2 linked regions of the Homo sapiens genome follow. The protein of the gene in region 1 purifies or fractionates together with the protein of each later gene. This does not show direct contact. Each region holds a gene or a part of one and is shown on either strand. Other genes may lie near its edges. The genes, in order: SMAD5 and RUNX3.

Region 1 (3,814 bases):
CCAAGAGTTTGGGCTCAGGGCGAAACATGAGGTCTCTATAGTCTCTTTCCAATAGTTGAACTAGTAAGACATGAAATTTTCCGTTATTTAAAAGTATCAGAGCTATGCCCCAGTCTTTTCTATAGAATGAATCATAGCTGAGAAAAATGTATACAAAAAATAAGACATTTCTATTGGCTGGCTGACTACTAGTCACACTTTGGCTATAGGGGAATACATAAAATTCCTAGACTCCCTCCTAGCAAATAGCAAGCTTGGGAGTTTTTCAGCCTATACTTCTCTATTAAATCCTTTTATCTTCCTTTCTTCATCAGTTCCTTCAGCTATCAGCTTTCCTTGGACTCAGTAAGAAACTGAGAATCATATCATACCAACTGTCTAAAGACACTCTAAAGCTCTTAAGTTGAACTTTCACAGACAGCATAATCACTGCTATCTGCTATCCTTTCTACTAGTCTCCACATCCAATGTTATTTTCAGTCTTTTTACCACACATCTCCACGTGAAACCCAGATAGACTCTAAGGTAACCACTGTGATTCCCACCTCCAGGTATTCAAACCATTGGGTAATTCTCCCTGCTTGAGTATGAGTATGACCTATCACTTCCTTCTAACCAACAGAATATGGCAAAGGTGACAGCGTATGTATGATTACATTCCACAAGAATATAATGTCCTTCTTACCAGAAGACCCTCTCTTCCTTACTGGCTTTGAAGAAGCTGTCATGAATGTGAACTACCTATAAAGAAGGCTATGTGAAAGCAACTAAATCTGTCAACAATCACATGGGCTTGGAAGCAGATCCTTCCCTAATTGAGCTTCTGATAAGACCTTGGCCCTAACCAACACCTTGATTACAGCGCCTTGCAAAGGACCCAGCTAAATGTGACTGGACTCCTCACCCAAAGAAACTGTGAGGTAATAAACATGCATTGTGCTAAGCCACTAAGTTTGTGGCAATCTGTCATGCAGCAATAGATGACTAATGCACTCAGCTAGCAGCTCAGCTTATACCATTCATTATAAAAAAAATTTACTGAGCATCACCTACCAAGTGCCAGACAACAATATACTATTCTAAGCACTAAGGATAGAGTAATGAATGAAATAGAGGAAGACTCTGCTCATGTCAGTCAATAAACAAAATAAATATCTAATATAGAGTCAATTAGTGATGCGGATATTTGAGCAAGGACTGAATGGAATGAGAAAATGTGCCATGGAAAGATCCTGGGGGAGAATAAGTAGACAGCAAGAGTTAAAGCCTGGAAACAGGAGTATGGCAAGTCCAAGGAACAGAGAACTCTGAGGATAGGTCATACAGAGTCTTACAGAAATCTCTTTAAGTGTGACAGCCTTGAAAGTGTTTTCAGTAGGAACTGACATGATTTAGTATGTTTTTAAAAAATCATTCTGGCTGTTGTGTGGAAAACACAATGGGTTAAGGGGAAGAAGAGACGCAGAAAGACCAATTAGGACACTACTTAAGGTGAGTGATGATGATGATGTACTGTACTAAAGTAGTGATGTCACAAATGATGAGAGGTGACATATTTATTAAGACATATTTTGAAGGTGCAGCAAACAGCATTTGCTCATATTTTAAATATAGGATTTAAGTAAGAAGAATAAAAGATGACCTTGCAGTTTAGGGCATTAGCAATTACATGAATGCTGTTGCCATTCACTTCAATAGGGGAAACCAGAGAAAAAAAACTGCGCTTAGACATATTACATTTGGTATGTTTAATAAATAAATATTCAAGTGGAAATGTCAAGTAGGCAACTGGATACACAAATCTAAAACTCAAGGGAGAAGTTGACTTGAGTTCAAAATGTGAGCATCAGCTTATAGACAATCTTAAGACATGTGACAGCATGAAAGCACATAAAGAAATAATATAAATGGAGAAAAGGTCCATGGACTGACTCCTGTGAAAACAGGAGAATACGCCAGCAAAGAGGGGCAAGAACAGTCAGTGAGGTAGGAGAACCAGGATAGCATACTGTCTTAGGGGCCAAACACAGAAAAAGTTTTGAGTAGGATGGAAGGAGATCAACTGTATCAAATGCAGTTGAGCGGACAGTAAGATAAGACTCAAAAATGACCCCTTGACCTATAAAAAGGCAGTCACTAGTGATCTCGACAAGTTAAATGGTAGGAAAGAAAGACTAACTAGAGAAGTCACAAGAAAAAAATGAAACATAAAGATAATAAAAATGGAGAATCCTCTAAAAGGACCAGTGGAAACAGTGCAGTGATTGGGGTTGGGTTATGTGAATGAAGTGAAAAGCAGAATTTTTTTTTAAGTTTTATTTTAGGATGGGTAGTATCATGGCATGCTTGTATGCTATCAGAAATACTCTGGTAGAAAGGGAAAATATAATGCTGGAGAGAAGGATGATAACTGTAGGAACAAAGTTCTTCATTTGACAAAAAGGAATGGGATATAGTACACACTTGGAGCTTAGGCTTTAAATAAAACAGAGACAGGTCATCCACAGGAAAAGGCAGAGTAGATATATGGGTGCTTACAGTGAATAATGAATTAGAGTAAGCCACCTGAGAATTGTATCACCTACATATAAAAAGCTAAACTCAAAATCCAATAGCCCTTCCAAGATTAGAATATTTAAGATGGAAACACAAAGCTAATACAACCTTTTCATTACTAAATCTAGTTACATGCATATCAGGAAGAGAGGTTTTTTGTTTTTGTTTTTCCAAATTCTTCTCAGGAATAAGACCTACCTGGACTCTCCACTCTCTTATAGTGGTATGGGTTGATACAAACTTCTTTTTGCTTAGATCCAAAAGGAAATTCACAAATATCCAACGGCTTTAGCTCATGATGACTCTGCAAATCCGGCCAGCGCCAAACACGACAATATATAACATGGGGTAAGCCTTTTCTGTGAGAAACCTGCAGGCGTCCATCTAAAGATCTGGGAATAGTGACACATTTACTCGGCTGTCCTGGACTGCTCAAGGCTTTCTCCAGTTCCTCCATGGCACCCTTTTTCTTTTTTAGTTTCTTCACCAAAGCATCAACTGCCTTTTCTGCCCATTTCTCCTCCTCATCACCTTGTTTCCAGCCCAACAATCGCTTTACTGCTGGACTAGTAAAAGAAAACAAGCTGGCCATTGACGTCATTTGACACAAATCTTCGGAGACCTTCCTGTAACTCAAAGTCAGTGGCTACCGAAAGAACAGATCACAGGTGAAACGTCATACACAGGTCCTAAGCAGAAGTTCCAATTAAAAAGGGAGGAGTAACATTTATCTTCACAAGTGCCATATGCTTCTTTCATTGGGTCAAGTCCTGAAAGAGAAAGGGGGAAAGGATCCTAGTTTAAATCAATTCAATATATACAAATTTAAATTAATATAATCGAAAGGCATATTTTATTAAATAAGAACAGAAAAGCATTACAAAGTAAACAAAAAATTGATAAATTTTCTCCAAAAGTTCTGTGACCACTCGATTCCTTCCCCATAATATGAACAAGTAAGACACTGGCAATGTCAAATGATAACCAGAGGCAAAACCAGGTTGCTCTACCTCCTATGTATTATCCAAAAATAGCTTCTGGACTCCCTTTGATTAGGCCACTAAACCCTAAAACACTCTTCTAAAATTTGATTCTGAAGTACTTTTCTTCACTGAAATCCATGTTACATGCTATGTCAATTTTGAACGTGATTGTGTCCTGATCTGAATAGAAGTCTTAAAAGAAATCCAGCTCTTCTCTAAGGTCATTATTCTCTTTAAATGTTTCCCAGACTGAGAAGGTTTGGACAAAAATCATG
Region 2 (3,814 bases), on another chromosome or scaffold:
AGCGGCTGGTGGCCGGCATGCCCGCCACGCTGAGGCTGCTGATGCTCGTGCCCGAGGGCGTGGCGCTGTAGGGGAAGGCAGCTGACATGGCCCCGGGATAATGCATCCTGGGGTCTGGGAAGCGGCTCTCCGTGAGGGTTGGCAGCGTGGGGAAGGAGCGGTCAAACTGGCGGGGGTCGGAGAATGGGTTCAGTTCCGAGGTGCCTGGAGGACAGCAGGGAAGAGGTCAGTTCCAGCTCGAGACAACCCCAGGAGGGCTTCCTGAAGAATGACCTTGGGCTCTGGTTCCCAAGGCCCATCTGGGGGACCCCTAGTTCTAGACCTGGCTCTCCTCTTCCTGCCCTAGGCTGCCCGGGGCCTCCCCCGCCAGGACTCCGAACACAGACCTGCCGGGAAGCTGGTTGGAGCGTGCCCCGGGCCAAGAGGGGCCATGGGAGCCCCCCCACAGCAGCAACAGAACAGAGGAGGGGGTCTATTCTTCTTTTTAAATCCTCCTTCCCAGCCTCGCAGAGGAGAGGCCTAGGATGCGGTGGTGGGGCTGAGGGCAGAGTCAGCTCAGGCCTCCCAGCAGCCCTGCCCAGGCAGGTTCCTCTCCCCACCGGCCCATGTTAACAGCTGGGAAGGCCGTGGATGTGTAAAGGGCTCCAATGACCGTGTGAGACTGGGAGTTGGAACCCGCTTTTGAAGACAAGAAAATGGAGGCAGAGAGAGAGCAAGACTGAGTCTCTGTGGCAGAGAAAGGACTGGTTCTCATCACAAGGCCTCTGCTGGGGACACACGTGCCTCTCCTGCCCAGGTGCAGCACGCGGAGGTTCTGTGCGCTCACACCTGGGTTGTGGGCACTGAGTTCACAGGAGCTCTGGCCTCCACCTCACCCTGGGCCTGTGTCTCTGGAGCCGACTCGTGGCCACACAGTGACTGGATGCCACCCTAACCTGCCTTGGCAGCAAAGTGAGACAGCAGTCAGACAAACTTGGGGACCCAGACCCCAACCTGGTCACAGTGTCCAGCCCAGACTCTGCCCCTGCTCCCCCAGGAATGTGGCTTCTCAATGGGCTCCAAGGCAAGGGTGTTCCATCCTCTGTCCCCAACTTTTGTCATCACAGACCCCCAAAACCTCAGCATTCAAAGGGGCTCAGGGATTGAGTCTAACACCCTTGATGGGGAAACTGAGGCCCAGACAGGGTGAGGCACTTCCCTCAGGGTCACACAGCACATTGGACCTGGCACACAATCCTAGGGCCTCTGGTCCTGAGCCCCAACACGTACTTGAGAGGGAGCTGTCCCGTCTTTGAGGCAGCACAGGATCAAGGCTTACTGTGTGGCTTCTGGAGCCGGACAGTTATCCTGGTTTGGACACTTACTAGCTTTGTGTCCTTGGGCAAGTCACTTAACCTCTCTGCGCATCAGTTTCCCCATATAAAACATGAGACGATAACAGTTCATCAGGATTCAGTTAATTCACATCGAGTACTTAGAATGGCACTGGGCACAGAGCAGGGGTCCATGAGGCTTTGCAAGGCCACTGTGGCTGTGGTGTCTCTTACTCTGGGTACCCAGGAGAACTGGCTCATTCAGGGCCCTGCCAAGTTGAGGCCCTGGTGCAGGGCCTCCCTTCTACTCTGGCAGCCGGGGGAGGTGGATGAGCCCCCAGCAGTGGTCCAGAGGTGCAGTCTGTCCAGCCCAGCAACCCCTCTGTGTCACCCACCAAAGGATAAGGGCCGGTGCTAGCCGGAGTGGGCTCTGCCTGCCACGCCGAGGCTTGGCTGAGGACGGAGAGCTATGAGCCTGAGGTGTGTGTGACTTCGGCTGGGACTTGGAACTTCTCGGGGCTTTGGGGTCTTCCCAAGTCAGCTGGGGTATGTTTCCCTCAGCAGCGTACTCTGGCCCTGGGCGTGGATCCGAACGGAGTGATGCTCCTGGCTTAAGGTAAGAAGATGTGGGGACAGCAGTCTGGGTGGCGGGGGCCTTCTGGGACATCTGGGATGTTCCCTAGTAGGTCACTTGGCTGTCCCGGCCCCTTGAGGCCGAGAGCCTCCGAGGCACCTGGCTGCCAGTTTTCATCTGGGGAGCCCCTCGGGGGGAGAGGTCCTGTTGCAGGTGCTGGGCACGTCAGCACAGCTGAGATGGGTGGGGTGGAAGTGGGTGCTGGCCGCCTGATGGGAACCCCATTCTCAAGACGAAGGAAACAAATGGGGACCGCAGGATACAACGGCAGGACTGTGCCCCTCAGAGCTCACGCGGGCTGCAGGGCGCTGGGCTGGGCCTCCCTGGACCTGCCACCATCCCCTCCAGCCTCTTTCCTCAGGGCCACCACCCCTCCTCCGGGGTGGTGGGGGAAGTACCTGCCCTCAGCACTCCCTCAGACCCCCCAGCAGCTTCCTTGGAGCTCCTGTACCCCCACCCTGCGGCCTCGCAGCCCCAGGAAACCCGAGCTGCCCGGGGCACTGTCGAGTGGCCAATCCCAACAGTGGAAAGAAATGTTTATTTTCTTCTCCAGATTGTCCGGGCTGCTGCATGGTGGCTGAATGAGCCCTTTCAGCTGTGAGAAGCCCCCATTGTGGGCGGCTGCGGCTGGGGGCTGGGGCTGGGGTATGGGAGGTGCTGGGGTCTCTGCACTGCTTGCCAGTGACCAATATTGGAGGGTCAAAGCACTTAACAGGCACCGAGGGAAGTGGTGGTGGGGTGTCCCAAGGGGGATCCCCAGGAGGGAGTCCGAGGGCAGAGGGAGGAGGGCCTGTGAGAGTGACTTCCCAAGCCTAGGTCTGCCAGCAACCCCTCTTTGTCAGGGACCTCCTTCTCCCCACTTCACAGATGAGAAAACTGAGGCTGAGTTTAAGTGACTTGTCTAAGATCATACAGCCAATGCCTGGCAGAGCCTGAATTCCTAGCCTGGTCCAGCTGACTGCAGAGTTCATGCTCGCCCTGTCCTGGTCATCCGAGGCCCTTTCTCTCACCCAAAGGGGATGGGCCTGAGGATGGAGATGCCTGGCTGCCTGTGGCCCAGTGCTGTGGGGGGCTAGCGAGGGACTGGGCCAGGCCTCAGGAGGGAGCAGGCAGAGAAGCAGAAGTCAGCCACTGCCCCACACAGGCTGGGCTCCTTTCCTCCCAGCCCAGGATGGAAGCAGCAGCTGTGCCTGCCGTGGGGCCAGGCATTGATTCCCAAGCTGTGCCCACCCAGCAGTGGATGGGCAGATGTGGGCTCTCCTTCCATGGGGGCTGGTGGACAGGAAGCCACTGTTCACCCCACCTCCTGGATTCTGGCTCCCCCGCTGAGCCCCGATCCCCTGGCCTGGCTCTGTCCATGGCAGAGAAAGGCTGGCTCTCAGGCTACTGCACCTCGACAGATGCTGGCCCATGGGTAGCAGAAGCAGAGGCAGCTACGCGGCAGGGGTGGGCGTGAGCACAGCGTGCAGGGCTCCTTCCGCTACCTCTTGAGAGCAGACCTCCAACTCCTGGGCTCGAGAGCTGAGAGTCTCAAATGCACTAGCTCCTGGGCTCAGAGAGGCTGGGCCTGGGGCTTCTCCCAACCTTGGCGTCTCAGCAGGACCAAGGCCAAAAGTCCTGAGCCCAGGCCAGAAGGGGAGGGGTCCTCTCTTCACACTGAAGGCCTGCATCCAGCCCCTGGCTGCAGCACTATGCCTGGAACAATGTCAGTAGAGAGACCCAGTCGGCCCCCACCTCAGCGTGGCACCGGAAAAGGGGGTGGGGCAGGCAGACCGGTTGGCAGCCCTGTTCCAGGCCCCTTTATCTGTCCCCTCAGAAGTACAGAAAGTTCTTGGGAGCAGGTACTGTGGAGACTGTGGACCTGGTC

What was found.
Region 2: the proteins of SMAD5 (region 1) and RUNX3 purify together in Homo sapiens (affinity purification with western blotting, with the first as the bait; one study listed by BioGRID). This does not show direct contact.

The regions. Positions count from the first base shown.
Region 1 is NC_000005.10:136,153,104-136,156,917, reverse strand, and holds part of SMAD5 (mothers against decapentaplegic homolog 5), read right to left. Parts: intron 3,327-3,814; 5' UTR 3,158-3,326; coding exon 2,755-3,157; intron 1-2,754. UniProt on the Homo sapiens protein: Transcriptional regulator that plays a role in various cellular processes including embryonic development, cell differentiation, angiogenesis and tissue homeostasis.
Region 2 is NC_000001.11:24,902,463-24,906,276, forward strand, and holds part of RUNX3 (runt-related transcription factor 3), read right to left. Parts: intron 205-3,814; coding exon 1-204. UniProt on the Homo sapiens protein: Forms the heterodimeric complex core-binding factor (CBF) with CBFB.